Homo sapiens: one gene and its partners. The protein of the gene in region 4 interacts with the protein of the main gene of each other region in a pairwise test. Each region holds a gene or a part of one and is shown on either strand. Other genes may lie near its edges. The genes, in order: ZNF436, IKZF3, ALAS1 and KIF9.

The links.
Region 1: the proteins of KIF9 (region 4) and ZNF436 interact in binary tests that used the Homo sapiens proteins (3 or more experiments, as listed by UniProt).
Region 2: the proteins of KIF9 (region 4) and IKZF3 interact in binary tests that used the Homo sapiens proteins (3 or more experiments, as listed by UniProt).
Region 3: the proteins of KIF9 (region 4) and ALAS1 interact in binary tests that used the Homo sapiens proteins (3 or more experiments, as listed by UniProt).

What each region holds. Positions count from the first base shown.
Region 1 is NC_000001.11:23,359,837-23,366,860, forward strand, and holds part of ZNF436 (zinc finger protein 436), read right to left. Parts: intron 3,386-7,024; coding exon 2,133-3,385; 3' UTR 1-2,132. UniProt on the Homo sapiens protein: May be a transcriptional repressor.
Region 2 is NC_000017.11:39,791,291-39,798,314, reverse strand, and holds part of IKZF3 (zinc finger protein Aiolos), read left to right. Parts: intron 1-5,381; coding exon 5,382-5,642; intron 5,643-6,731; coding exon 6,732-6,899; intron 6,900-7,024. UniProt on the Homo sapiens protein: Transcription factor that plays an important role in the regulation of lymphocyte differentiation. Plays an essential role in regulation of B-cell differentiation, proliferation and maturation to an effector state.
Region 3 is NC_000003.12:52,201,136-52,208,159, reverse strand, and holds part of ALAS1 (5-aminolevulinate synthase, non-specific, mitochondrial isoform 1 precursor), read right to left. Parts: intron 5,654-7,024; coding exon 5,426-5,653; intron 4,298-5,425; coding exon 4,148-4,297; intron 3,468-4,147; coding exon 3,245-3,467; intron 2,322-3,244; coding exon 2,137-2,321; intron 1,589-2,136; coding exon 1,409-1,588; intron 78-1,408; coding exon 1-77.
Region 4 is NC_000003.12:47,279,791-47,287,661, forward strand, and holds the start of KIF9 (kinesin-like protein KIF9), read right to left. Parts: upstream 3,010-7,871; 5' UTR 2,803-3,009; coding exon of another isoform or gene 2,705-2,802; exon of another isoform or gene 2,350-2,704; intron 1,406-2,349; exon of another isoform or gene 1,199-1,405; coding exon of another isoform or gene 1,162-1,198; intron 1-1,161. Other genes in the region: KLHL18 (kelch-like protein 18), read left to right, coding at 3,176-3,304. UniProt on the Homo sapiens protein: Essential for normal male fertility and for progressive motility of spermatozoa.

The DNA of each region.
Region 1 (7,024 bases), on a different chromosome or scaffold from region 4:
CCAAAAGCAGCAGCAGGAACTGGTTGGGGTGGGGCAAGAACAGTAGGGAAGGAAAAGGGGGTGAAATACAGTTAGGTCATGGAAATGCGGTCATCTATGGCCACTCCCAAGCTGATACCCATAGTGGCTCACAGAAGCAACAGGAGAACTTTGACATTTATTAAAACCATCAGCAACATATATGAGAAAAGACATATTTGAGTTTAGTTACCAAGAACATGTGTCACCCGACAATTAAAATATGGATACCCACAGTCTGCTAGATTTTGTAAATAACAAAAAAACATGCTCCTTGCCTGAGTTTGTCCTTAAAAAGGAGTGGCAACATGAAGGAACCCCCCTGGAAGATGGGTTACTTTAAAGGTTGTGTTATTAACAAGTGATGTGGTCCCACACAGCTGTGGGTCACAATAACTCATTATAGTACCCACCCAGAGAGACCACTGGCTCCTTTAACACCAAGTCCTAAAAAGCTATGGCAAAACATTTTTAAAATGTTACAACATTCACAATAAAGAACAGTAGCAATAAAGCACAGTAGAAATAAACTGGGGGTACTCTCAAAAGAAAAGATATTCCTCACTCCAGTCCCATTTTCTGGGCACCAATTCCCTTCCACCCCAACATGCTTGGATAGCATCAACACTTGAGATATTTCTTAATTCCTACCTGGACTGAGATTAGGAAAACTGACACTACTGGGCTTAAATTGGGCGAACTGTTATTTTAACCTCTTATATCTGTAGGGTGGGAGGATGGAAATACATTCCTACCGAGGTTCGTTAATTCCTTCTGACTAAGCCAAAGAGTTCTTCATTACCATAGAAGATAATTCATTCTGAGAATAGGACAATCGACCTATTTGTCTGGTCATTATCTTCCACAATTGACAAACACATACAAACAAGTGCTTAGCTCTGTACAAAGACAGACCTTACAGGAGAGTGCACACTAAAGCACTAGTGTTTAAATTATTTTCCATAATGAAAAAAGGACATTTCTCACATTGGAGTTATGTCTGTACTTCTGTCACATGACTCACATCACCCAAGAACATGCTAAGTCTCTGTAAATTCAGTTTCTATTAGAAAAACCACAGGAATACACATTACTGTACATACACATGCCCTGATGCAAGCTAAGATAAACACTGGGATGTGGCCCTTATCAAATCTTAGAGTTAGCAGGATAGGAAGAGTTGATCTTAAAGATTAGAAGGGAAAGAACACAGAAACGACCTACATTCCTTGGGAAGGGACTCTGTGGTTCCTTCCCTGAAGGACTCAATTCCACTTGCTCCTTACACTTAACTGTCACTGATGGTCCTATCTTTTCTTGAAGATATTTTCTATACAATATTCCCTATAGTGATCCCCAAAGAAAATTCATAAATCTGATTAATGGCAGTAATAACTGTGGGCATCTTCTGCTAAAGTCACCATCATTGATGGGTCCTTGGTCCCCAAACCTGTGTCTCATTTTTCCTTTCCAACCGTATCTTCAGTTAGCCTTCACAAAGATGCAAGCTTTAAAGGAGCTAATTAGAAACAATGAGAAGGAGAAAAGTTACAATCATTGCCTTCATCGTGCAAAATCTTGCCCTCAGGAAGATGGAAAAGATACAAATGCATGAGCAACTCAAGGAAAAAGCCCTTTGGAAGGGAAGATGTGTGTGCCCAACTACTATGGTGTGTGAATAGGTGTGGCAATTTAGGCAGAGTCTCTAGTTGCCTTTTTCCAAAGCAGCCATTACCACCCTATTACAGTCCCACGTTTCACTTAGCATAGTTCCTTGGGCCAAGGATGGGAGAAAATAACATTGAAAGATTTACTCCATTTCCAGGCCTAAGCATTCACCAGCATTTGTCCCCTGGTCTTCAGATTTCCAGTTACTTGTGGGGCTGCTTTTAATGAAGTAACCCATTGAGTGAATAAAAATCACCATTTTGGAGGAGATAACATTCCCAAAGCTGAGGGTCAGAATTTCAAATGGCTTGTCATCTCTGATGGTTTAAATCGTGGCCCACAACTAGGAGAGTATGATAAAAGCAGCTCAGTCTTGAGGGCGTTCATTGATATCAAATAAAATTGTATCTTCAAATGAATCATTTCTCAGCCATCATAATTACAGCTTAGTCCGTATGAACTCTCTTATGTTTAATAAGAGCTGAGCTCCTGCTGAAACTCTTCTCACATTCGGTACATTCATAAGGTTTCTCTCCCGTGTGAACTCTTTGATGTGTGATGAGGTTGGAGCTCTGGGTGAAACCTTTCCCACACTGCACACACTCGTAGGGCTTCTCCCCTGTGTGGGTTCTCTGATGTTTAATTAGATCTGACCTTTCACCAAAGCTTCGCCAACACTCATTACACTCATAAGGCTTCTCTCCAGTGTGAATTTTCTGGTGTGTGATGAGATGAGAGCTCCGGCTGAAGCTTTTCCCACAAGCATTGCATTCATATGGCTTCTCTCCAGTGTGAGTTCTCTGGTGCTGAACCAAGTGTGAGATGCGGCTGAAATTTTCCCCACATTCGTTACAGTGGTATGGCTTCTCTCCCGTGTGGGCTCTGCGATGACGCACAAGGTCGGAGTTCTGACTGAAATTCTTCCCACACTCATCACACTTGTAGGGCCTCTCCCCTGTGTGGACTCGATAGTGTTTGATGAGATCAGATCTCTCACTGAAGCCTCGGCCACATTCGTTACATTCATAAGGTTTCTCACCCGTGTGGGTCCTCTGGTGCTGAGCTAGGTGAGAGCTCCGGCTGAAGCTTTTCCCACACTCCTCACACTCATAGGGTTTCTCACCACTGTGGGTCCTTTGGTGTTGGATTAGGTGAGAGAGACGGCAGAAACTTTTTCCACACTCATTACATTTGTGAGGCTTCTCTCCAGTGTGGATTGTCTGATGCTGAATCAGGTGAGAACTTCTTCCAAAACTTTTCCCACACTCGTTACAGTCATAAGGCCTCTCCCCAGTATGTGTTCTTTGATGCTGAATAAGGTGTGAGCTGCGACTGAAGCCTTTTCCACATTCATAACATTTATAGGGTCTGTCTCCAGTGTGGGTCTTCTGATGTCGATTAAGGTCTGAGATCTGACTGAAGGCCTTTCCACAATGAGAACATATATGATAGCGGATGCCTGTGTGGACTTCTTTGTGGACAAGTAGATCAGTGACTGGTTGGAGAGGATAGCTTACCCACTCTTCTGCTGTTAAATCTCCCCATTGTCTTTCTGACCTATCTCCGCTTTCAAAGCCCTCTTCACTTTCAGGATTTTCCTCAGCATTCTCAGCAGGTCTTTCAGATGTAGTCCCAAATTGTACATCTTCACTAATCTCTTGCTTGGGATTTACCTCGTTCTCACTCCTGATCTCAAAATCTGTAATAAAAAGTAAACAATAAGACTAGTAAGTACAAAAATTACCTATTGTGTGCCAGGCACTATACTAAATTTTTTTTTTTTTTAGACAGAGTCTCACTGTGTTGCCTTGGCTGGAGTGCAGTGGTGTGATCTTGGCTCACTGCAACCTCTGCCTCCTGGGTTCAAGCAATTCTCCTGTCTCAGCCTCCTGAGTAGCTGGGACTACAGGTGCACGCCACCATGCCCGGCTAATTTTTTTATTTTTAGTAGACACAGGGTTTCACTATATTGGTCAGGCTGGTATTGAACTTCTGAGCCACTGTGGCCAGCCTAAATTATTTATATTCTTCGTCACATATATTCTTTATCACAGCTATTCTGAGAGTCAGGAATTGTGATTATTTCTACTTCATTAATGAGAAATCCAAGACCCAGACAAGTGAATTGACTTGCTCAAGGCCATAGTAAATGGTAGAGCCAGTATTCAAACTCAGGTCTGTCAAAATTCACATTCTGTATCGCTGTAATTAATGATTCATTAAGAAAACTATACAGGCCAGGTGCCGTGGCTCACGCATGTAATCCTAACACTTTAGGAGGCCAAGTCAGGAGGAACACTTAAGGCCAGGAGTTCAAGACCAGCCTGGGCAATATAGGGAGAACCCATCTCTACAAAAAAATTTAAAAAATTAGGTGGATGTGGTGGCATGCAACTGTAGTCCCAGCTACTCAGGAGGCTGAGGTAAGAGGATCACTTGAGCCCAGGAGTTCAAGGCTGCAATAAGCTGTGATTGTGCCACCGCACACCAATATGGGTGACAGAACGAGACCCTGTCTCTTAAAAAAAAAACTATATATATTCGTGTTTTGAAAGAACACTGGAAGCAGAAAATATGAGACTCTAAATTAGAATATCTAAAAGGCAAGATTCTAGGTATTTTGTGAGTATGTATTTTTTAACTTGCCAAGCCTTCATCATTAGTAGCATCATAAAATATTTACTAAGAAGCCACTATGTTTTTGTTTGTTTGTTTGTTTTGTTTTGTTTTTTGAGATGGAATTTCACTCTTGTTGCCCAGGCCGGAGTGCAATGGCGCAATCTCCGCTCACTGTAACCTCTGCCTCCTGGGTTCAAGCGATTCTCCTGCCTCATCTTTCCGAGTAGCTGGGATTACAGGTGCCCGCCACCACATCCAGCTATTTTCTTGTATTTTTAGTAGAGACAGGTTTTACCATGTTGGCCAGGCGGGTCTTGAACTCCTGATCTCAGGTGATCTGCCCGCCTCAGCCTCCCAAACTGCTAGGATTACAGGCGTGAGCCACCGTGCCTGGCCAGAACCAACTATGTTAATATGGAGAAAAATGAATCTTTACCTATGTCATAGTTGACAGAAAAGTGACTGACAAATGTCACTTCCTACTTTTCAGTGACCTTTTAATGAAAATAGGAGTGGGAAAGTTGAAGAAGGCAAAAAAGATGTCTGGCTGAGAACATTCTTGGCATTGTCTAAGTATATTTCACATGCAGTCTTCAAATGAAAATCAAAATACACAACCACTGTCTACAAGGAGTTTTATACCAGACACTGCATTCTCCAAATTGGGTTTCTTAGTACACTCTTCAGAAAGAAAGTATGTATTTTGGGAGAAAAGGGTTCATGGATAAACTGGGTTGGTAAATGGTACATACAATATCATTTCCTTCAAAATTCACAATGCCTAATAACACATTAAAGGTTCTAAGGAATCCTGAGGTAAAAAGGCCTTATAAGGCCAGATGCAGTAGCTCAGGCCTCTAATCCCAGCACTTTGGGAGGCTGATGCAGGAGGATCACTTGAGCCTAGGAGTTTGAGACCAGCCTGTGCAACATAGGGAGGTCTCACTTCTATTAAAAATAAAAAGAGGCAGGCCGGGCGCGGTGGCTCACGTCTATAATCCCAGCACTTTGGGAGGCCGAGGTGGGCAGATCACGAGGTCAGGAGATCGAGACCATCCTGGCTAACACGGTGAAACCCCATCTCTAAAAAAAAAAAACGCAAAAACTAGCCGAGTGTGGTGGCGGGCACCTGTAGTCCCAGCTACTCAGGAGGCTAAGGCAGGAGAATGGCGTGAACCTGGGAGGCAGAGCTTGCAGTGAGCTGAGATCGCGCCACTGCACTCCAGCCTGGGCAACAGAGCAAGACTCCATCTCACAAAAAAATAAATAAATAATAAAAAAATAAAAAGAAGCTGAGCATGGTGCCTGACACCTGTATTCCTAGCACTTTGGGAGGCCGAGGTGGGCGGATCACTTGAGGTCAGGAGTTCAAGACCAGCCTGACCAACATGGTGAAACCCCGTCTCCACTAAAAATACAAAAATTAGCTGAGCGTGGTGGCATGCACCTGTAATCACAGCTAGTCGGGAGGCTGAGGCAGGAGAATTGCTTGAACTCAGGAGGCAGAGGTTGCAGTGAGCCAAGATTGGGCCACTGCACTCCAGTCTGGGCAACAGACTGAGACTCTGTTTCAAAAAAATTAATTAATTAATTAATTAATTTAAAATTTTTTAAAAAATAAAAAGAATTAGCCGGGCAAGGTGGTACGCATCTGTGATCCCAGCTACTCAGGAAGCTGAGATGGGAGGATGACCTGGGCCTGGGAAGTCAAGGCTGCAATGAGTTGTGATCGTGCCACTGCACTCCAGCCTGGGCAACAGAACAAGATCCTGTCTCAAAAAAAAAAAAAAAAAAGCCTTGTAATCATTTTTAAACCCATTCCCATTCCCAAACTTATTTGGGCAAGAAACCAGTTTTTTGGCGCTTTCATCCTTCTAACAAGTGCTTTTGGGGCTAAACTGTAGAATTGTAAATTCACATTTTTTAAAGATTGTCATTTTTTGCTTTTGTTGGATTCAGTGGAATATTTGGGTTACAGACTGCAATAGATCTGGATAGATAACTATTTATGGTTACTTTTATAAAGAAAGGATTCAAGAAACTAGGGACATCAGAGAAAGCTCAAGTTAAAAAGGAAAGCCCTCAGAGTTGCCTTTTGTTCTGAAAAAGGCTATGGGAATAAAGATTTCAAAAACAGGATTAATCCTAATGAATGGCAAATGACCTAGTGACCCATACACGCTTGCTAATGTCTGTCAAGTCTTGACAGGAGGCAAAGTGAGGCAAAGTGAGTCAAAAGACCGTTCAGCTCAAGAATATACTCTTTATTCTAGTTACACCCAGACCAAAGTACAGCAAAGAGAGAAGACAGGCTTGCAGACCATGAAAAAAAAATCAGCTGCCCTCTCTAATAGAATTTGTGATCTATTTCAGCATTCTTCTGGAACAGCATTTGACACACTACAAATCTATCATCATCAACACTGAAACATCTCTAGATGAGAATCTACTCAGCTAAGGAACTTGAGGCAAAGCTAGGGCTCTGAAGCCAAAACAAACACAAAAAGGTGGCTTTCGCCCTCCCATGAACCTGGGTTAGAATCCCCTCATCTTTTAGCACCCTAGAGTAAAAGCACTAGTTACGGGGCATTTATATTCTGGCAAGCACTATTATGCCAGACCTGTTTGGTCAGTGATCTGTACAAACAGGCTGGAGATTGGAAAATGACTCAGGGCACAAGAAATCTGAACGTCTAAGACGTGCAGAAGCAGTTTTTTT
Region 2 (7,024 bases), on a different chromosome or scaffold from region 4:
GGCAGTGGAAAATATTGAAGAATTTTGACAGGGCTATGACATGACCAGAGGTAGAATTTAGGAAGAGCAATCTTGTAGCAACAAACAAGACGGGCTGGAAAGGAGAAAGAAGGGAGCCAAAGAGAACAGTGCGGGGGCTACAGCAATAAGTAGATCGTGGGAAAGTCATAGGGTCTGAGAATTAGGTAATGGGCATGCAAAATACAGGAGTGGAGAAACAGATTAGAGATTGGATACACAGATAGAACCACTGAATGATTGAATGTGGGGCCCAATCAGGAGAAAGGAAAGATGACTCTAAGGATTCTAGCCTGAGTAACTGGGAAGATACCTAGGAAGCCTTCAGAAATAGAGGACTAAAGAAAGGGAGAGAGGTTACACCTGGAGTTATATATATGGAAATTAATCATATAAGATGTTAGTCGAAGCCTTAAGAATGAATGAAATTGCCATACAAGAGGGGTGTAGAGGGAAGAAAAAAGAAGGTTAAGGACAGTATTTAGGATGCAGAGGGAAGAAAAGGGGCAAGAAGGAAGCAATCAGAAAGGCAAGGAAAGAAGGTACATTTTCATTGAAGAAATAGGAGTGCAGGGGCCGGGCACGGTGGCTCATGCCTGTAATCCCAACACTTTGGGAGGCCAAGACAGGTGGATCACCTGAAGTCAGGAGTTCGAGACCAGCCTGGCCAACATGGTAAAACCCTGTCTCTACTAAAAATACAGAAATTAGCCAGGTGTGGTGGCACGTGCCTATAGTCCCAGCTACTCGGGAGGCTGAGGCAGGAGAATCGCTTGGACCTGGGAAGCAGAGGTTGCAGTGAGCCGAGATCGCACCACTGTACTCTAGCCTGGGCAACAGAGTGAGACTCTGTCTCAAAAAAAAAAAAAAAGAAAGAAAGAAAAGACATAGGAGTGCAGAAGAACAAGGAATGGTGAGTGGTCAGTAGTGTTGAGGATTACAAAGAAGTTGGAGAGAGTGGCATACAAAAAGGCTCTGAATCTAGGAATCAGGAGATTATGGTTGGTGATATTCAAGGGAGCAGATTAAGTGAATTGTGGAGGCGGAAGCCATATTACAGAGAATTCTGAGTCCTTTTTGAGGCTGTAGAGGCAGTAAGCATAGCTTACCTATGTCTTTTTTTTTTTTTCTTGAGACGGAGTCTCACTTTGTCACCCAAGCTGGAGTGCAGTGGTGGGATCTCAGCTCACTGCAACCTCCACTTCCCAGGTTCAAGCGATTCTCCTGCCTCAGCCTCTTGAGTAGCTGGGACTATAGGCGCACACCACCACGCCTGGCTAATTTTTTTGTATTTTTAGTAGAGATGGGGTTTCACCATGTTAGTCAGGATGGTCTCGATCTCCTGACCTCATGATCCACCCGCCTCGGCCTCCCAAAGTGCTGGAATTACAGGTGTGAGCCACCGCTCCTGGACCACCTGTGTCTTAAATCTGTCTAGAAAGGAATGTTGAGGCCGAGCGCAGTGGCTCACTCCTGTAATCCCAGCAGTTTGGGAGGCCGAGGTGGGTGGATCACGAGGTCAGGAGTTCAAGACCAGCCTGGCCAAGATGGTGAAACCCCGTCTCTACTAAAAAAAAAAAATTAAAAAAATAGCCAGGTGTGGTGGTGGGCACCTGTAATCCCAGCTACTCAGGAGGCTGAGGCAGGAGAATCGCTTGAACCAGGGAGGCAGAGGTTGCAGTGAGCCGAGATCACACCACTGCTCTCCAGCCTGGGCAACAGAGTGAGACTCTGACTCAAAAAAAAAAAAAAAAGAAAGGAATGTTGAGAGAGGATGAATTTAGGTATGATGTGATGAAAGGTGAAACCAAATTGCAAAAGGAAAGGAAAAGAGGAGTTGGCACCTAGAGAGCCTGAAGACATAGAGTTGATAGATCTTGGAGACTGACTTGATGTAGAAATTGAAAGAGAAAAGGTTCCACAGTTTGATGGCTTGGAGACTGGAAGAAGGGTGATGCCATTTGTCAACATAAATAAGTCATAAATTAGAAGCAAGTTTGGGTTCAAAGATGACAAGTTTGATTTTAGACATGTTCATTAGTATTTTCTAATAGAATTTTTCTAAGTAGAACACCCCTTTTCTCTGCTTCAATAAGTCTTCCAGGGAATGGGATGAATCTCTTCATTAGAGCAGGCTAATGCCTTTCCTGGTTTTGGTGGACTGTGTTTGGAGGCTGAGTACTAAGCCTAATATCTCTCAGGAATCTCATTCATACCTTAAATTCTAATTTATTTTATTTTATTTTATCTTTTTTGAGATGGCGTCTCGCTCTGTCGCCCAGGCTGGAGTGCAGTGGTACGATCTCGGGTCACTGCAACCTCCACCTCCCAGGTTGAAGCGATTATCCTGCCTCAGCCTCCCCAGTAGCTGGGAGCCACCATGCCCAGCTAATTTTCTATATTTTTAGTGGAGACGGGGTTTTGCTATGTTGACCAGGCTGGTCTCAAACTCCTGACCTCAAGTGATCCACCTGCCTTGGCCTCCCAAAGTGCTGAGATTACAGGCATGAGCCACTATGCCCAGCCAGCAATTTATTATGGCTTACCTTGAGAAGGTAACAGAGTTGAATATTAGAATAAATTAGAATCTGGTTGGACACGGTGGCTCAGGCCTGTAATCCCAGCACTTTGGGAGGCCAAGGAGGGTGGATCACTTGAGGTCAGGAGTTCGAGACCAGCCTGGCCAACATGGCGAAACCCCGTCTTTACTAAAAACACAAAAATCAGCCAGGCATTGTGGTGCATGCCTGTAATCCCAGCTACTCGGGAGGCTGAGGCAGGAGAATCACTTGAACCTGGGAAGCAGAGGTGGCAGTGAGCTGATCGTGCCACTACACTCCAGGCTGGGCAACAGAGCAAGACTATGTCTCAAAAAATAAAATAGAATAAAATAAAAATAAGTTGCTAATCCCCAGTAACCATGCAGAGAGGTCATCCAGGTCATTCATCTAAAACTGGTAAGACTCCAAAGGCAAACCAGCAACTATGTAAGCCCAAAGGACTTCTCTAATGCCCTGTCCCTGTGTCCTTATGTCCCTGGGTCTCAAATACTGTCTTCCTTGCTCTATAGCTGACTCCTAAAGGACTAAAGCTAAGATCTGCTCTTGAGCCAGGATGGTGTCGTATTGAATTCCAGGTCAGGCCAACTAAAGCCAAAATCCTGAGGGAAAGGAGCAGCTCTCTTATGTCCTCTGTTTTCAGAAAGACTCAACACATTGATCTTACTACATTTTAAAGTTCAGTGACCATGGAGTGGCCTGAGTCTGGTCATGTTCACATTTTCTAACCAAAATGGAAAGGATCCTTTTCTGCTGGCCTTTTCTATCTGCTGTTTTTGGTTTTAAGTAGCTGAAATTTTCCGTTGAGGTTCTTTTAAACGCCTACATGCAAACTGAAGAGCACTCAAGCTTTGGTGGGATATTACCCACAGCTGGAGTGATGGAGGAAGGGAGGCAAGTACAAGCCTCAGGTGCATCCTTCTCTTAAAAAAATAAAAAATAAACACTTAAGCAAACAAATTCCACTTGAAAGCAGGGAAGACCTATCCAGAGAAAGAAGTAAACCTCTTTCCAAGTAGGAAACAGATATCATTTCTTATATAATCCAGATCCATAGGGTGGGCAAATTTGAAACATGTTGGACTTATCCTACAGCCCTACATCTTTGCTAGTCAAAGAGTGAAAAGTTGTGAACCATGAACTGTGGTAGGAAGCAGTGGAACTGTGTGGCAGCCCTGGCTCCTCTGATGGTGGTTAGGCCCTGTCTTGCTCTATTAAGCAAACACAGTTAATATAGATGAAAGGTAACCTTGATAGAAGTGAAAATTGAAACTTGGGTTGAAGGTAGCAAGCCAGGCACAGCTGCAGTTGTACTTCCTCCTATGCAGCAAGAGGAGCAACACTTACTGATGTTTTTTGGAAGGGATGTAGTTTTTTAAAATATCTTTTTTCAGACTGTTTTGGGTTTTAACATTTACACCATTGATGGGAGGGTGTGTAATACAGTTGGTAAGAACCCACTTAGGCCTTATATGTCTAGTGCATGAGGTCAAATCCAAGTAATTGATAGTTCAAGCTTAAGTTTTGCATTCTAATCACACCTCTGCCAGTAACTGGATGTGTAACCTTCGACAAATGACCAAAAACATCTCTGCTCCCAGATTTCCTCATCTGAGAAACAAGAGGGTTGGATTAGATGACCTTTAAATTCCCTTCCAGCCCTACACTCCATTGATTTGTGATTCCTCATGGGGAGGTACAACTTTTGATTTCTAAGGACCAATGGTTGAAAAAGTAAGCATTTATATAGCATATTTTATATATGCAAAATCCCTTACAAATGTTTATTATTCTTACATCAGGCAAATTTTTAGGTTTTACTAGTGTCAGTGCAAGTACATAAATTTGCCTTCTTTGTTTCTTATGTTCTTCATATTTTTCCCACGTTCTTCATATGTTCTTATGCTCTTCATGAAGAGTATTACAGCTCTTCTTTTAAATTTCATTCATTTACATTGCAGTTCTTAAGATAGTACTTGGTCAGCCAACTCACTTGAGCCAGTCCCTCCTCTCCTATCCAGTCCTATTACACAATCCTTGAGTCCTTGAGTTTAGTTCTCCCTAACTTGGGACCTAATGGTCCTTCCCCTTATTTAGATTGAGCCCCACTTACCTGTGTCGATGAAAGTGACTCCTTAGGTTATATGAAAGAATTACTTTTCCTTTTGTCTTTCTCAACACTTTTTCATTAGTACTGACAACTTCCTCTACAGTCAATGTTGTGCCTTTATCAGCTCCAAGAGAGACAGAGATAAGATGTGTTTTAGCAATTCATATACGTGGAAGGGGAAGAGGCAATGCATGGCTTAAAATTAGAAAAACTATGTTAACTAGTCAACTCTTAATCTTAATGGCTTACACTGGATGCATCTGAAGGATTCAAACAATATTTTCTCCTTGAAACCTAAGAGTACATCACCTTGCCTTTTTAACTGCAGCCACCAAAAACAGTACTAGATCTGAGAACCCTTCCTCTCCCCTAGTACTGGAGAAGAGTTGCTCAATGTTTGTTTCATGGCCACTTTGAGCAAACTTAGCTAAAATCTATTATCTGTAATTTTCTGGATAGCCTAAAACACTATCGTCTATTTTTATGTGTGTAAGTATGTGTGTTTTCCTCTGACTGTGGTTCTGAATTTAAATAACGTGCGGTCACGCTAATGGTGCTTTCTTGTTTTGTAGATGTACAGTGTTTTGTTAGCTTCGATTGGTATTTAATTGTCAGTTGTGGGTCTCTGCTGTTTGAGCTGCTTTGATAGCTTCAAGTATAGTCGTTGTTCATTTCTTGCATTTTCTTCCCTGCAGATGATTCAATGAAAGTGAAAGATGAATACAGTGAAAGAGATGAGAATGTTTTAAAGTCAGAACCCATGGGAAATGCAGAAGAGCCTGAAATCCCTTACAGCTATTCAAGAGAATATAATGAATATGAAAACATTAAGTTGGAGAGACATGTTGTCTCATTCGATAGTAGCAGGCCAACCAGTGGAAAGATGAACTGCGATGTGTGTGGATTATCCTGCATCAGCTTCAATGTCTTAATGGTTCATAAGCGAAGCCATACTGGTAAATAGTCTGCTTTTTTCATTCTTCTGAAAACTCTCCTAATGCAGCCACGTGAGAAATGAAGTGGTGGAATTTGGAACTTTTGGTTACTTTCATTGATTTTTGCTATAATGCTGATGTATCTCTCTCTCTGCATTGCTGTTCACTCAGTGCTTTTTATTCCTGCCTCACCATGCATTTGGCAAACATATTGCAAATGCTATGAATAAAAAAAGACTGTAGAGAGCACAGTGTTCTAGGTCAGCCAAATACTTTTTCTTCAGTTTCTAAGTAGGAGTTGAATTGTGTGATTTGCTTCTTAGCCATCTTTTGTATATTTTTGCATAACATTTTTAATAAGAGCAGATCTTCTTATTGTATTGGGTTCAAATTTGGTAAATGAAAGGACATAGTTTTTATTTCCAGCTTAAAATAATGTATCTTCAGACAATAAACAGGTAGTCTATAGAAATGCATACAAACACAACCATCGCACTTGAGCCAGTCGATTCCATCCCATATCTCATATGAAGACTTTAAAAAGGAGAATTTCTAGCCCTCAACACCTTGTAAGGACTTTAGTTTCTGGCTCTTTTTTCAAAGGAGATTATATTCAAAAGGAATACTAAAAAATTAGCCAGGCATAATGGCAAACACTGGTAGTCCCAGCTATTCTGAAGGCTGAGGTGACAGGCTCACTTGAACCCAGGAGGTCAAGGTTTCAGTGAGCCATGATGGGACCATTGCACTCCAGCCTGAGCAACAGAGCAAGAAGACCCTGTCTAAAAAAAAAAAAAAAAAAAAAAGGGAGTACCAAGTAATATAGTAATATAAAAACTTAGATCTAGAAAGCACTTCTAGAGCTGCTCTTGTTTCTTTGCTCTGATTCAATATGATACCTAAAATAGCCTTGCTAGTGGGTGCTTTTTCTCTTCTACAGAGGAGATTTCATAAGTAAGTCTTAGGCTTGCCTTGAAATGCAGCTCCCAACTGATCCCAATGTGAACAGTAATTGTCTAAAAGATGAGCTTTTCCCCTAGGCATCTAATCTGTGCATATGTTTCTCCACTTGCCTGTGACCAGAAATCTCCTTTTTTGTCCTTTTTAAAGGTGAACGCCCATTCCAGTGTAATCAGTGTGGGGCATCTTTTACTCAGAAAGGTAACCTCCTCCGCCACATTAAACTGCACACAGGGGAAAAACCTTTTAAGTGTCACCTCTGCAACTATGCATGCCAAAGAAGAGATGCGCTCACGGGGCATCTTAGGACACATTCTGGTAAGTGAGAGAAATGAGCATTCCTTGTCTAGGAAGTGCATTCCTCAGAGCCCAGTGTGGAAACTAGAAAGAGTTAAGTAGGAAGGTTTCAATCTGTCATTCTTGTTCTGAAGGGTTACAACAGC
Region 3 (7,024 bases), 4.9 Mb from region 4:
GTGGACCTCATCCACGAAGGTGATTGCTCCAAACTCATGGGCCACATCACACAGCTCTTCCAGTGGGCACACCGCCCCTGAGGAAAGACCAGAGACTGCTCTGAAGAGCTTTTGCCGCTTCAGAAATTTCTGTTTTGGTTAGAGTCAGAACAACGTAAACTTCTATTCTAAGGTATCATTTTCAATATTGGAAAGAAAATGAACTTCCTCTAATTTCTAGGTTACCTGGGGTCCCAGAGCCTAGTAAAAGCCAGAATAGAAAATCCACTTTCACCCAAATCTATTAGAAAAAAGTCCACCAATTACAAATCTTGGCAGAATGCAATACTACACAGCAATAAAAAAAGAATGAGACCATGTCCTTTACAGCAATACGGATGGAGCTAGAGGCCATCCTAAGTGAATTAATACAGGAACGGAAAAACCAAATATCGCTCTCACTTATAAGTGGGAGCTAAACACTGAGAACACATGGACACAAAGAAGGGAACAACAGACACCAGGGACCGACTTGAGGGTGGAGGGTGGGAGGAGGGTGAGATCAAAAACTACCATTGGGTACTATGCTTACTACCTAGGTGATGAAATAATTGGTACACCAACACCCTGTGACACATAATTTACCCATATAATAAACCCGCACATGTACCCACTGAACCTAAAAGTTGGAAGAAGAAAAAAAAAAATCCTGGCAGAAAGGAAAAGAAAATTAAAAAACACAACAGGCCAGGCGCGGTGGCTCACGCCTGTAATCCCAGCACTTTGGGACGCCAAGGTGGGCGGATCACAAGGTCAGGAGATTGAGACCATCCTGACTAACACAGTGAAACCCCGTCTACTAAAAATACAAAAAGTTAGGCCAGGTGCGGTGGCTCACACCTGTAATTCCAGCTCTTTGGGAGGCTGAGGCGGGCAGATCACAAGGTCAGTAGATCGAGACCATCCTAGCTAACATGGTGAAACCCTGTCTCTACTAAAAATACAAAAAATTAGCTGGGCGTGGTGGCAGGCGCCTGTAGTCCCAGCTACTCAGGAGGCTGAGGCAGGAGAATGGCGTGAACCCAGGAAGTGGAGCTTGCAGTGAGCCGAGATCACGCCACTGCACTCCAGCCTGGGTGACAGAGGGAGACTCCGTCTCAAAAAAAAAAAAAAAAAAAATTAGCCAGGCGTGGTGGCAGGTGTCTGTAGTCCCAGCTACTCGGGAGGCTGAGGCAGGAGAATGACGTGAACCCGGGAGGCGGAGCTTGCAGTGAGTCGAGATCGCACCACTGCACTCCTGCCTGGGCAACAGAGCGAGGATCGGTCACAAAAAAAAAAAATTAAAAAACACAACAAAACACCATACTTTTAAAGAGTTCAGGCATAGTTTTTCATCTTAGGTTTCAGAGGAACCTCTATCCACACTTACCATCCATTGAATGGACAGTTTCAAATGCCACAATCTTGGGGACTGAGGGGTCAGATCTTTGCAGCAGTTCTCTGAGGTGGCTGACATCATTGTGGCGGAAGATGTACTTTGGCACTCGGCTGTTTCGAATCCCTTGGATCATGGAGGCATGGTTCCCAGAATCAGAGTAAATCTCACAGCCTAAGACAACAAAAATGCTATTTATTGCCATGTGCATCGAAGACAAATTATTTCCTAGAGAAAGACAACAGACTTTTCCTTGGAAATGATGCTTTGAAAATGCCTAGTAGGAAAAAGACACTGTGTGCCAGTTTCTTCCTGGCAAAATAACTAGTTAGTGCTTCCCTTGTGAGAAGGCCCAAAGGTGTAGAATAACCTTGTGGCAGGCCATTAATCTGCTCTTAAATCTGACTGCCTCACTCCAAACTCAATCAAGAGCTAACTAAATGATTAAGAGACTTCTCCAAAGGATCATCTTAGAATACAAAACATATTTGAGGCAATTAGCTCAAGGATGAGACGTTTCAAGTTTGAATTTTCACTGGTATCACGTTCTCCTGGAACCCATAATGTACAGTCAGCATTTCATGCTTGACCCCAGAACAAATGCCCAGATAGGATTATGATTTTCAATTGAGAGGTTCTGGTAAGGCTTCTTTGTTGCCAATATTCTTGTTATTACTAAGAAACCCAAAAAACTCGAAGGCACTCATGCCAGGCTTCCTTACCTGGCATCATCTTAGCCAGGGTGAAGAGGGTTGAGTCATTGGCCACAAAGCACGAGGAAAACAAGAGTGCGGCATCTTTCCCATGGAGGTCTGCCAGCTCCCGCTCTAAGTCCACATGGAATTTACTAGTTCCAGAAATATTTCTAGTACCACCTGCCCCAGCACCATGTTGTTTCAAAGTGTCCCTGTTTAAAAATACAAACAAAACCAGAAAATAAAGCTCATGGTTCTCAACACCATGTGAATTTTTTCCCCTTTCTAGGATCCAGGAGACTGAAACATGTTGATGTAGCAACTCTCTCACTGTGAAACCTGGGGTCAGAAATTTCAACTGATTTCATCTTCAGACTAGGTGGGAGAAGGTGTCAATGCTAGGGTGATGATACCTCCAGGAATCATCAAGAACAAGTGTTCATTTAACAGTCAGTAAGTGCTTGGTATTAGCTGAGTTTCTTTTCTAAGAAACTAAGGTTTATTTTCTGAGAAACATTATTCTTTCCAATAACATGTTAGCTTAAGAAAAAGCAAACTCTAGAGGGACATCCTGGATGGTGGTTACCCTCTGCAAGCCAGTCATGTAATGTTTGGATATATCACTATCATTAAACCTCAAACCGGGACCCTCTTTAGCAAGCCTTTGGAGAATCTGGCCAGCAACTCTCTCCAGCATCCCTAGGATGGTGAGCCTCCTGAAGGACGAGTGATGGGATCTACCATCCTTTTTAACATGTCTTTTGGAGTAGCTTTTTCTCTAGCGCTGCTAGATTCGTATTTCTCCACTCACAGCCACAACCAAGGATGTCTCTGTGAAAGACTGCCTGGTGTTAAAGGCACACTCACTTGCAGAGTGATAGAAAGTGGACTGACGTGTGTGGTCATTGAGCCTATAAGCTTGAACCCTCACAAGTTAAGGGGCTCCAGCAGCTACCTGCATATTAGAGTTCCTTTAAAAGTAATCTGTAGATATTTTTCAGAAGCTAAGAATAGTATTTTGCTATGGCACACTTTCAGCTACTGAATGTTCCCTCCATAAAAGATCCAACCCCTATACATCATCATTGGCTTGCCAAATAACAACAGTAATATTTGAAAGCCAAGGGCTACTTACATAACTGCCCCACACACCCGTGGGTGGCGACTCATTCCTAGGTAGTCATTACTGCACCAGACTGACACTTGCTTTTTGGTGATGAGGGAGTCTGAATAGTCATCTGCCATGGGGAAGATGTGTGCTCGCCGGTTCACAGTTTTAAAAACTCGATAGGTGTGGTCATTCTTTTTCTCATCAATTTTTTTCTCAAAGAAACGATCATACTGAAAAGTGGAAACAGCTAAAAATTGAACAAAAGACAGTACAGAATGGTGGTTGTGAAACACAGCTGCATTTTGGTGAAATACAACAAGTCTCAGCTTGGCAACTGAGGGAGATCCTGGGCAGGTTATTTGATGTCCTCATCTTGTAAGTAAATAAGACTGTATGTCGTGTTTGGCTCAGTGCCATGTGTAGACGGTAAGTATTAAAGGACAGAAGGCAGGCTACCAACAGCACCTGTAGTCACCACAACCAAAAGCACCTGCTCACGCAAGCAAGGGATATGGCTTTCAAGCCTCAACTCACCATACATTTTTTTGTTTTTCCTAGAAACTGAGTCTCTGTCTGTCATTCAGGCTGGAGTGCAATAGCGTGATCATAGCTCACTGAACCTTGAAGTCTTGGGCTTAAGCAATCTTCCTACCTTAGCCTCCTGAGTAGCTGGGACTATAGATGCAAGCCATCATGCCTGGCTAATTAAAAAAACTGTTTTGGTAGAGATAGTGTCTTGCTATGTTGCCAAGGCTGGCCTCAAACTCCTGGCCTCAAGTGATCTTCTCCCGCTTCAGCCTCCCAAAGTGCTGGGATTACAGGTATGAGCTACTGTGCCCAGCCTCACCATGCAATTTTATATTTAATCTAATGTACATTTGAATTATAAATTCTTTTCTACATCAGGCAAATAACAATGAGACTTACATTTTGGCAAGTTATCTTGAAGAAGATGAGACACTCTTTCTGGTCTTTGCTTTTGCATGATGTCCTGGAAGTTCTTCAGCAGTCCACTGGGATCCCCTCCATCGGTTTTCACACTAACCACACTGGGGCCTGCTGAGGTTTCAGCAACCTCTGGAACAAAAGTAACAAGAAACAAATGGGACCAACTTTCTATTCTGAGTTCACAATATCTTCCAAACATATTGTCAAAAATGGCTTATGGCCTAGTTCACAAAAAAGGCCAAGCATAACCAAAGTTAGTTATAACTGAGTGTACAAAGCATCTCTTCTATTTTAGTTACTGTAATGGCAGACTCTTGGTGTTGTTTTCAGAGCTACTGGCCAGCTTTAATGAACAATAAAGTCCAAAGCTTTCTTGCTGGTTGGCATGTCTTATTCACTCCACTACATCCCCACCCCAATCCTAATCTCAATTTTCTGTTTTTTTTTTTTTGAGACAGAGTCCCATTCTGTCACCCAGGCTGGAGAGCAGTGGCACGATCTCGACTCATTGCAACCTCTGCCTCCTGGGTTCAAGCGATCCTCCCTCCTCAACCTCCTGAGAAGATGGGACTATAGGCATGCGCCATCATGCCCAGCTAATCTTTGTATTTTTGGTAGGGATGGGGTTTCCCCATGTTGGCCTGGCTGGTCTTAAACTCCTGGCCTCAAGTGATCCACCTGCCTCGGCCTCCCAAAGTGCTGGGATTATAGGTGTGAGCCACTGGGCCTGGTCCTAATCTCAATTTTCTTCATAGAAAACAATTTTGGCCATATGCATAATTTCTGCTGGTTAGGCTTTTGGGGAGCCTTGAGTTCTCTGCAGATATAGCCACACCTATATATTGTGGAGTTAAGGTTGCAATTCAATGACCATCAGTAAGACACACGGCTTGGGAGCCCTAGGACCAGCACTTACTGCAGTAAAACCATTATTTTCTATCTTTATCCTAGCAGATGATGGGAAAGACCAAAGGGACAAAAGGCAGCTGGTGGCAGCTCAAGACTGCAGGTTATTTTCAGAAATTAAGTAGTAACTATAAAAGCTGGTCACATCCCACACACGCACCAGAAAGAAAGTCCCACTTTCGCAATACAGTCCCTTGACTGTCTATCTTGAAGACCTTCCTCTCTGGCCCTAAAAGAGGAAGGTGTTTCCATAAATACTGCCCTAATAATAGCTCATACACAAATCTGAGGGCCCAAAAGAACTAAAAGGACCCCTTCACTACCACTAATGGTTCACAACTCATCTCTTACCTTTCCTCACGGCATTCATTTCCTGCACATCCTCCTGAAGCTCAAGACTGGCTTTGCAGAAGACACTGCTGCCTCTCTGATTCATCTGTGCTGCCAGGAAAGGGCATTTGCTTGCAGTGCCCTGGCTTGTGGCAGGCAAGGGGTGTCCAGACGGAAGCTGTGTGCCATCTGGACTCTGCTGGGATCCATCAGGAGTCTGTTGGACCTTGGCCTTAGCAGTTTTGTCTTCTGAGGGAGGAAATGGAAAAAGTGAAGCATCAGATCTGGTTGCACAGTATGTAAGAAAACCACTTATTTCTTTCTTTTATTGCCTCAAAGATAAACTTAATACTTACTGTACCCCACCATCCAGACACAAGTGTTTTTTTTGTTTTGTTTTGTTTTTAAGATGGAGTCTTGCTCTGTACCCCAGGTTGGAGTACAGTGGCACAATCTTGGCTCACTACAACCTCCACCTCCTGGGTTCAAGTGATTCTCATGCCTCAGCCTCCCAAGTAGCTGGGGTTACAGGTGTGTGCCACCATGCCTGGCTAATTTGTGTATTTTTAGTAGAGATGGGGTTTCACCATGTTGTCCAGGCTGGTCTTGAACTCCTGACCTCAGGTTATCCACCTGCCTTGGCCTCCCAAAGTGCTGGGATTATAGGCGTGAACCACTGCACTCAGCCACAAGCTTATTTTTATTAGGTTCTGCTAATCTCTCTAGTTTTTCATCTGCTTCACAGGAAACAATGCGTCTATGAAGAGTTAACTGGCACATTCCAGTTGCCTCTTAAACCCACAGTATTTCTCGTCATAAATCCAAAAAAAGTACCATTTTCTAGTTTTAGACAACCCGGAATCCTTGAGTTGGATCATTTCCAGTAATTTCTACCCCAACTACACTCAGCTTATTTTATGAGAGGACACACTCTGTAAGGTAACGGGAAATATTCACACACATTTTTTTCTCTGCTAACATTTTCCTTTCCTTTTTTTTTGAAACAGGATCTCACTCTGTCAACCAGGCTAGAGTGCATGGTGCAATCATAGCTAACTGCAGCTTTGACCTCCAGGCTCAAGTGATCCTCTCACCTTAGCTCTCCAAGTAGCTTGGACTGCAGGTGTTCTACTGCGCCCAGCTAATTCTTTTTATTTTTTATTTTTTGTAGAGACGGAGTCTTGTTATGTGGCCCTAGCTTCTATCAAACTCCTAGGCTCAAGCAGTCCTCCCGCCTCAGCCTCCCAAAGTGCTGGAATTACAGGCATGAGCCACCACATCCTGTCTCTGCTGACATTTTCTAAACAGATTCTTGACAAAGAGGCTTGCTGTTGCTTAACATAAAAGCTATTGGTTTTCATCTAAACAACAGAAATTAGACTAAGACTTAGGTCTTTAGATTGCTAATAAAGTAAGAAAAAATAGGGGTATATCACATTCACATACCTCATCTACTTTCTCATCTAAATTCATCAAAGTCTGCTGACTAAACACCGTTGGCTGGTAATTATCCTTCTAGCTACAGTGACTTCCCTCTCCCCTTGAGCAAATTCATTCACCTTCTTTCTAGAAAAGTCTTTCTTCATCATTCTGGAACACTCCTGTGAGTCACTGGCTAGC
Region 4 (7,871 bases):
GTATTTTTAGTAGAGATGGGGTTTCACCGTGTTAGCCAGGATGGTCTCGATCTCCTGACCTCGTGATCTGCCCACCTCAGCGGATCATTTTATATAAAATTATCTAAGAGAGGTCCAATGGGTGTTACCTGACAAAAGTTATTCCAGATTTTATTTATTTATTATTTTTGAGACATTTATTTCAGACAGAGTCTCGATCTCTCTCTCAGGGTGGAGTGCACTGGTGTGATTTCAGCTCACTGCAGCCTGTCTCCCAGGCTCAAGCAATCCTCCCACCTCAACCTCAACCTCCAGAGTAGTGGTAGGACAGGTGTGTGTCACCACACCCGGCTAACGTTTTGCAATTTTGTAGAGATGGGGTTTCAACATGTTGCCCAGGCTGGTCTCAAACTCCTGGGTTCAAGCAATCCACCCACCTCAGCCTCACACTCAATTTCTAAAGCTTGGGGAACCGGGGAACCACTCTTCACATCCAAGGGCCCATTCTCCTGCCCAGGGAAATTCAGATGCCATCCAGGGTATGCTCCGAAAGGGACCATGAAGAAGCAGGGGAGCTCTGGGAGCAGGTGCCCAGGCCTCTCTCCCTGAAGCCCCTGCACAAGAGTAGCACAGGCCAGTTCAGAGCATCAACCTCAGCTGGGCATGGTGGCTCACGCCTGTAATCCCAGCCTTTGGGAGGCCAATGTGGGAGGATCGCTTGAGGCCAGGAATTAGGAACCAGCTTGGGTAACACAGCAAGACCTTGTCTCTACAAAAAATTTTAAAAATTTGCCAAGTGTGGTGGTGCACGCGTGTGGTCCCAATTTCCCAGGAGGCTGAGGCAGGAGGATCACTTGAGCAGTGATGGCACACCACTGCTCTCCAGCCTGGACAACAGCGTGAGACTGTCTCAACAAAACAAAACAAATAAGCAAAAGCATCACTCTCCCTCCAGAGCCTGGCCCTTCTCTGCCCTGCTATTTGCCAACATGCACATGCACACGCAGTCACCCCATGTATGCTTCCCAAGGCCCTCCCATGCTGACACCATGGCTCCAAGCAGGCCAGGAGCCATATCCACCTGCAATAAAGTCTTCCTTTGCACACCCGTCTTGTGAGCCTGCTACTCAGCAGCCCTTTAACACCCAAACATTTAGGGACCCCATGCCATCTTGCACTTACTGAAATACTGCTTGTTACCATTCTTACGTCGCTTCATTTGAGTGGGTTTCAGTTCCCAAAATTAAATTACAAGCTGCTTGAAGGCAAGGATTGTGCTTTTTATCTCTTTTGAATCCCCTCACAATGTCCAGGGCAGAGCCCAGCACAGAGTAGGTATTCAGGAAATGGCGGTGGTTGGTGATGGTAATGGCTGGAAGTCAGAGGGCAGCTGAATCTTCATATGTGGGTCTATCTTCAGTCACTACTGAGAGAGTCCCAAGGGGCATATGATGTCACTCCCCTTCCATGACAACTCCAACCAAAGCCCACAGCCCTTCCAGGAGGACACTTGGTTTCCAGGTGCAAAAATCCACATCCAGCACCTCACCACACGCTTTTTTTGTTTTTGTTTTTGTTTTTTGTTTATTTGTTTTTGTGACAGGGTCTCACTCTGTCACCTAGGCTGGAGTGCAGTGAAACAATCTCGGTTCACCGTAGCCTCCACATCCTGGGTTCAAGCGATCCTCCCACCTCAGCCCCGCAAGTAGCTAGGACTACAGGCGTGCACCACCACGCCCGGGTAATTTTTGTATTTTTCGTAGAGACAGGGTTTCGCCATGTTGCCCAGGCTGGTCTTGAACTCCTGAGCTCAAGCAATCCGCTCACCTCAGCCTCCCAAAGTGCTAGGATTACAGGCGTGAGCCACGGCGCCCGGCCCCCTCCCTTTCTCCCTCAGGACCTTGTGGGGAATGTCTCTCCTTGGGGAACCACCCTTTGATATTTCTGGTATAACAAAGCAAGTCTCTGAATGGCCACCAGGAGACTTCTGTGTTAAGGCGCTCGAGGTTTCCTCATTTGTCTTTAGTGGGAATGAACAGAATTGGCAACAAGCAGCCATGAAGACTAGACAAGAGGAAAGGGAGCGTTTGGTGGGGTGGAAGGCACCAGGTGGGTCCCTATCTTCCAGTGCTCCCGTCCAGATGAGGGGCTGTCATGGGGAACCCTCATAGCTACCCGTAGCGGCAGCACCAACACCCGAATCCAAAACACTGGGTCCAACTGCACCTGGCCTTGGCTGAACAAGACTAGGATGCAGGCAAAACTAGACTTTCTCCTTTTTCTCACCCAATGTGCCGGACCCCCGCGTGGAGCCTGGGCGGCAGTGGGCTTTGGACCCATTCCGGTCCCTCTCTGGAGAGGTTTCCTCACCTGTAACACGAAGGGCTCCGACTGGTGATCCCAAAGCCCCCTCTAGTTCGAAAACTGACTAGTACGGAAGAGTCCAGACGACCTCTGGCTCCCTGCCTCACGGCCTCTATGTCCTGGACGCGACGTGGGACCCCTTTGTGGGACCAATGAACATTAGCTCCGAAGACCGTAAGCCGCGGTCAGGTTGAAAGGACTCCCGCGACGTCGAGCCCTCCTTCGCCTGGGTTTCAGAGATGAGCGACCCAGCTGGGAACCCCCAGATAAAGCGGTTTTTGGACCCCAGCCACTTTCAGCAGTCCGGGCGCACACCCTTTTCCCGTCTCCCCACTCCCACCGGCGAGCAGCCCCTGCTCACCGTTCACCAGGCAGCGACGCTCCCGGGACGCGACTGCCGCAACCGAAACCACCTGCACTCCCCACGCGGGGCTGCCTGGCTGTGTACATAGTCGCCATGGCAACGGGTCGCTTCCGGGGATTCCGGAAGTGTCGGGGTGGCGGAAATGAAGTCCGAGGTCCTACGTCGAGGATACGGGTGAGGTCATGGCCGAATCGGGAAGACGAGAGATGGGGCCGATTGATCTAGAAAGACTTCGGCGGATGCACATGCGAAGTCAAGGTCGAGATAGCGAGGGAACGAAGGCCGCACATGAACCAGGAAGCGGAGTGGCGGGGCTTCCGGCGCCGAGGAGATTCAACTACGGCGGCCGCGGAGGCCCGTCCGATTGCTGCTCCGCGCTCCGAGCGGCTGTCGGCGTGCGCTATCGCCCCGCCCTGGTTAGTGTCTAGCCGGCCGGCGAGGCCTGCGCAGTTGCAGCGGCCGGGGAAGATGGTGGAGGACGGCGCGGAGGAGCTGGAGGATCTGGTGCACTTCTCCGTGTCTGAGTTGCCTAGTCGCGGCTACGGCGTCATGGAGGAGATCCGGCGGCAGGGCAAGCTGTGCGACGTGACCCTCAAGGTACCGCGGACTGGGCGGCAGCGGGCTGAGGGAAAAGGGGTCGAGCGGGGAGTAAAAAGGGGCGGGGGACAGAGAAAGAGAGGTCTAGCAGGGAGAGGGGTGGGGAGAAGAGGTGTGAGGGGGGCCGAGTAGTGGGGAGAGAGGTGCCGAGCAAAAGGGGATCGGGGCCGAGTGGGGAGAGGAAGAGGACAACCTTTCAGCCCTTGAAAGGAAAGGTTGAGAGGTGCGCCGCTTAGGCCCTTGGAGTGGGAGACACGGGTGACAGCCTCCTTTTTCTGTCATGCAGACAAGAGAAAATGGACTTACCTTCTATGGAGGCAGGGGCGGTGGCCGGCTCCACATGCTGATGGGCACCACTGAAGAACCTTCTCTTGTCACTACAGATATTTCTTTGTGCCTGTCGAACTTGGCTGTGCTGTTCTAGAAGAGAAGGCTTCTCCTTAGGAATCATTGCCCTTAATTGTTGAATTACTACTTTGTCTCTTAAGAGCTTTTAAAATCTTCTCTGGAAAATTTTTGAGGTGGGAAGCCACCCTGCCCCATACTGGAAGGCACCACTCACCACCACAAAGGTCCCCGGGGCTGGGCCTGCTGGCCGCGTGGGGAGAGGGATGCTGACTGATATTAAGAGGGAAAGATATCTTAACCACCTGTTCCCCACCAGCATTCTGGTCGCTAGAGCCAGCCTCCCTCCTGTGCCTGGGTCTTTTCATGAGGAAGAGGCATGCTGTGCTGCTGCCTGGCCAAGCCACCGAACCATGTGGAGACGTCCGGTTGGGGAGATGATCAGTGGGGCTCCCTGTTGGGCTTTAGCTGGAAAGCTCTCAGCATCTGTGCGTGATCCCTGTTTAAAAAACAAACAGGGCAGGCATGGTGGCTCACACCTGTAATCCCAGCACTTTGAGAGGCGAGAGGATCACTTGAGTGGGGGAATTGGAGACCAGCCTGGGCTATGTAGGGAGACCCTGTCTCTACAAATAATAAAAAATTGTCTGGGCATGGTAGCCTGTGCCCGTAGTCCCAGCTACTCAGGAGGGTGAGGTGGGAGGATCGCTTGAGCCTAGGAGGTCAAGCCTGCAGTGAGTTGTAATCACACCACTGCACTCCAGCCTGGGCAACACAGCAAGATCCTATTTCTCCTATTTCTCTCTGTCTCTCTCACACACACACACACACACAAATAAATAAATAAAAGAAAAAATAAAACTATGCAGAGATTCTTTTGCTCTTCTTTTCTTTTTTCTTTTTTTTTTTTTTTTTGAGACGGAGTCTCGTTCTGTTGCCCAGGCTGGAGTGCAGTGGCGCTATCTTGGCTCACTGAAACTCTCTCTCCTGGGTTCAAGCGATTCTCCTGCCTCAGCCTCCCCAGCAGCTGGGACTACAGGCGCGCACCACTACCCCTGGCTAATTTTTTCTATTTTTAGTAGAGACAGGGTTTCACCATGTTGCTCAGGCTGGTCTCGAACTCCTGAGCTTCAGCAGTCTGCCTGTCTCGGCCTCCCAAAGTGCTAGAATTACACGCGTGAGTCACCGCGCCCAGCCTGCTCTTCTTATTTTCTACATGGTTAAGGAAACTTTTCTTCTGCAACATAGTTGAGTCAGACCTCTGGAGATGGTAGAGTAGGATGGTTGAGTATGGCTTTGAAAGCAGAAGGATTTGGATTAAAATCCTAGTTGTAACCTTGAGCAAGTTACTTAATCTCTGTAAGCCTCGGTTTTTTTGCTTTTATTTTTATTTTTTTGAGACAGAGTCTCGCTGTGTGGCACAGGCTGGAGTGCAGTGGCATGATCTTGGCTCACTGCAACCTCCACCTCCTGGCTTCAAGCCAGTCTCCTGCCTTAGCCTCCCAAGTAGCTGGGACTACAGGCGCCCGCCACCACGCCCGGCTAATTTTTGTGTGTGTTTTTAGTAGAGACAGGGTTTCACTACGTTAGCCAGACTGCTCCTGACCTCGTGATCCGCCCACCTCAGCCTCCCAAAGTGCTGGGATTACAGGCGTGAGCCACCAAGCCCGGCCCTTTTCATCATTCTAAACCCCTCCTGAAGGAGGTTGTTTTTCCAGGAGAGGAGTGAAGTGATCTGAGAAGGCGTGAGATCTTCTCATATGGGAAAGAGGAACCAAGAGAATTGAGAAAAAATGAGCTAGACTAAAGGAAGCAGAGGAAGTAAAAGTAAATTAGAAGTTTTTGTCCACAGTGATTACATGGTAGAAGATGTTAAGGCCACTAGAAACTTGTAAGCAGAAAAATGATCCGGTTTTGGCAGCAACACTTGGTGTAAATAGAGACTAGTGAAAAGCAGTAATAGGTGTGAATTTCTAGATTAAAATTTAGGCTGTAGGCTGGGCACCGTGGCTCACGCCTATTATCCCAGCACTTTGGAAGGCCAAGGCGAGTGGATCGCTTGAACCCAGGAGTTTGAGACCAGCCTGGGCAACATGGCAAAACCCCGTCTCTATTGGGGAAAAAAAAAAAAAGATTTAGGCTGTAAGGGTGAACCAGGGGAATCTTACAAGACACAGGGAATCAAAAAGGGCGTGGCAGCGTGGGATGGTCACAGATACTTCTACATAAAGTATTAATAGTACATTTAATGCAGATACTGAATATGGTAATCTTTTAGCAGAATATTGCTTGTTCATTCAAAGGGACAAGTAAATTATCAGACATGGCTGGGTGCAGTGGCTCACGCCTGTAATCCCAGCACTTTGGGAGGCCGAGGCAGGTGGATTGCATTGAACTCAGGAGTTTGAGACCAGCTTGGGCAACGTGGTGAAACCCCATCTCTACAAAAAATTAGCTGTAGTGGTGTGTACCTTTAGTCTTTCTTAGCTGCTCAGGAGGCTGAGGTGGGAGGATCACTTGAGCCTGGGAGGCAGAGGCTGCAGTGAGCCGAGATCGTGCCACTGCACTCCAGCCTGGGCAACAGAGTAAGACCCTGTCTCAAAAAAAAAAAAAAAGAATCAGACGTAGTTTCAACTGAGACGGTCAGCCCGAATTGCTGTGTTAGCTTCAGGGATCTAGAACATAAGGACCAGTATATTTATTTTTTTCTCTCTTTAATAAAAAGCCTTCAGTGGGAAGGACTAGTATAAACGCATGGGCTAGAGCTGGACGGGACTGTAGAGAGCATTTACTTCACTGATTTTGAAAACTTTATTGTAGAGCCCAAGGAGTAGCTCTGTAGCAATATAATGGTGGGACCGGGGAAAGAGCATGCAAACCAGGCTCTGCACATTTCACTACTTGCCACCAGAGCTGTCCTGGGAAATCTATTTTGTCTCTCTTTCTTGTCAAAGTCTTCCTTCAGTTTTCTGGTGACTCCACAGTGTTTTTCAAGTAAACAGACACTGAAAAACTGGTTGGAAGCTTTTGGGTGTGAGATGTTTTCTTGACTGGTGGGCCTCCCTGTCAGGCAGTGGTTCTTAAACTTCAGTGGACGTCAGAATCACCTGGTGGCCTTGTTAAAACGCTGGTTGTTGGACCTCACCCAGAATTTCTGATTCATTAGGTCTGGCATGGATCTGAAAACTCATATTTCTGACAGGTTCCCCTGTGATGCTACTGTTAGTCTGGGACCACGTTCTGAGAGCCATGGTTGTAGGGTGATGGACCTGTCGTTTTTCTGTGGGATGTGTTCAAAGTCCGTAGATCTTCCTCCAGGCTTCTTCCTAGGTGGTATAAGCCTGGCTGTTATTTTGGGAGCCTTATGGTAGGAGAGGTCTGGAGGTTCTCCCTTCTGTATGCAGACTTTCACTTAATCCCCCTAAATGGTACCACTTCCTTGTCTTCTGTGGTGCCCTGGTTACCCAGATCCAGAGGCTCTTGTTCATCCTGTCTGAAGAGTAAACCTCCAGTCTTCTGCAGTTGCTTGTCTGGGGAGGGGGACCAGTACTTCCTGATTTCGGCCCTTCTTCTTGCTCACAACTTCAGAGGAAACTGGTACCTCCAGTGGTTCCATTTTGGAGGGGATTCTTCAGTGGCTTGCCATCCGCAATACTCAGTATCCTCTAAGTCAGTTACTACTCATGTGTCTTCTTTTCTTCTTCTAAAATTTTGTTGACCCTTCTAAAATTTTGTTGACCCTTCTAATGTGCTGTCTCTCTCTGCATCTTTTTCCTTCAGAGCTTTGCTGTTCCTTGATCATCAGTCCGAAAGGCGGTATCACACAGACTCTGCAGCCACACTGCCTACGTTTGAGTTCTGGGTCTGCCACTTGTTAGCTGTGAAAATGAGCAGCTTCCTTAAACACTGGTGATTCTCTGTCTCGTCTGTAAAATGCACATCACCACCTACTTGAGTGTTGAGGATTCAATTAGTTAATGTACTTCAAATAATCATGTAGTAAATGCTCAGTAGTGTGTGTGTGTGTGTGTGTGTGTGTGTATTTTTTTTTCTCTCTTTTTTTTGAGACAGAGTCTTGCTCTGTTGTCCAGGCTGAAGGGCAGTAGCGCAATCTTGGCTCACTGCAACCTCCGCCTCCCAGGTTCAAGCGATTCTCCTGCCTCAGCCTCTTGAGTAGCTGGGATTATAGCTACATACCACCATGCATGGCTAATTTTTGAAT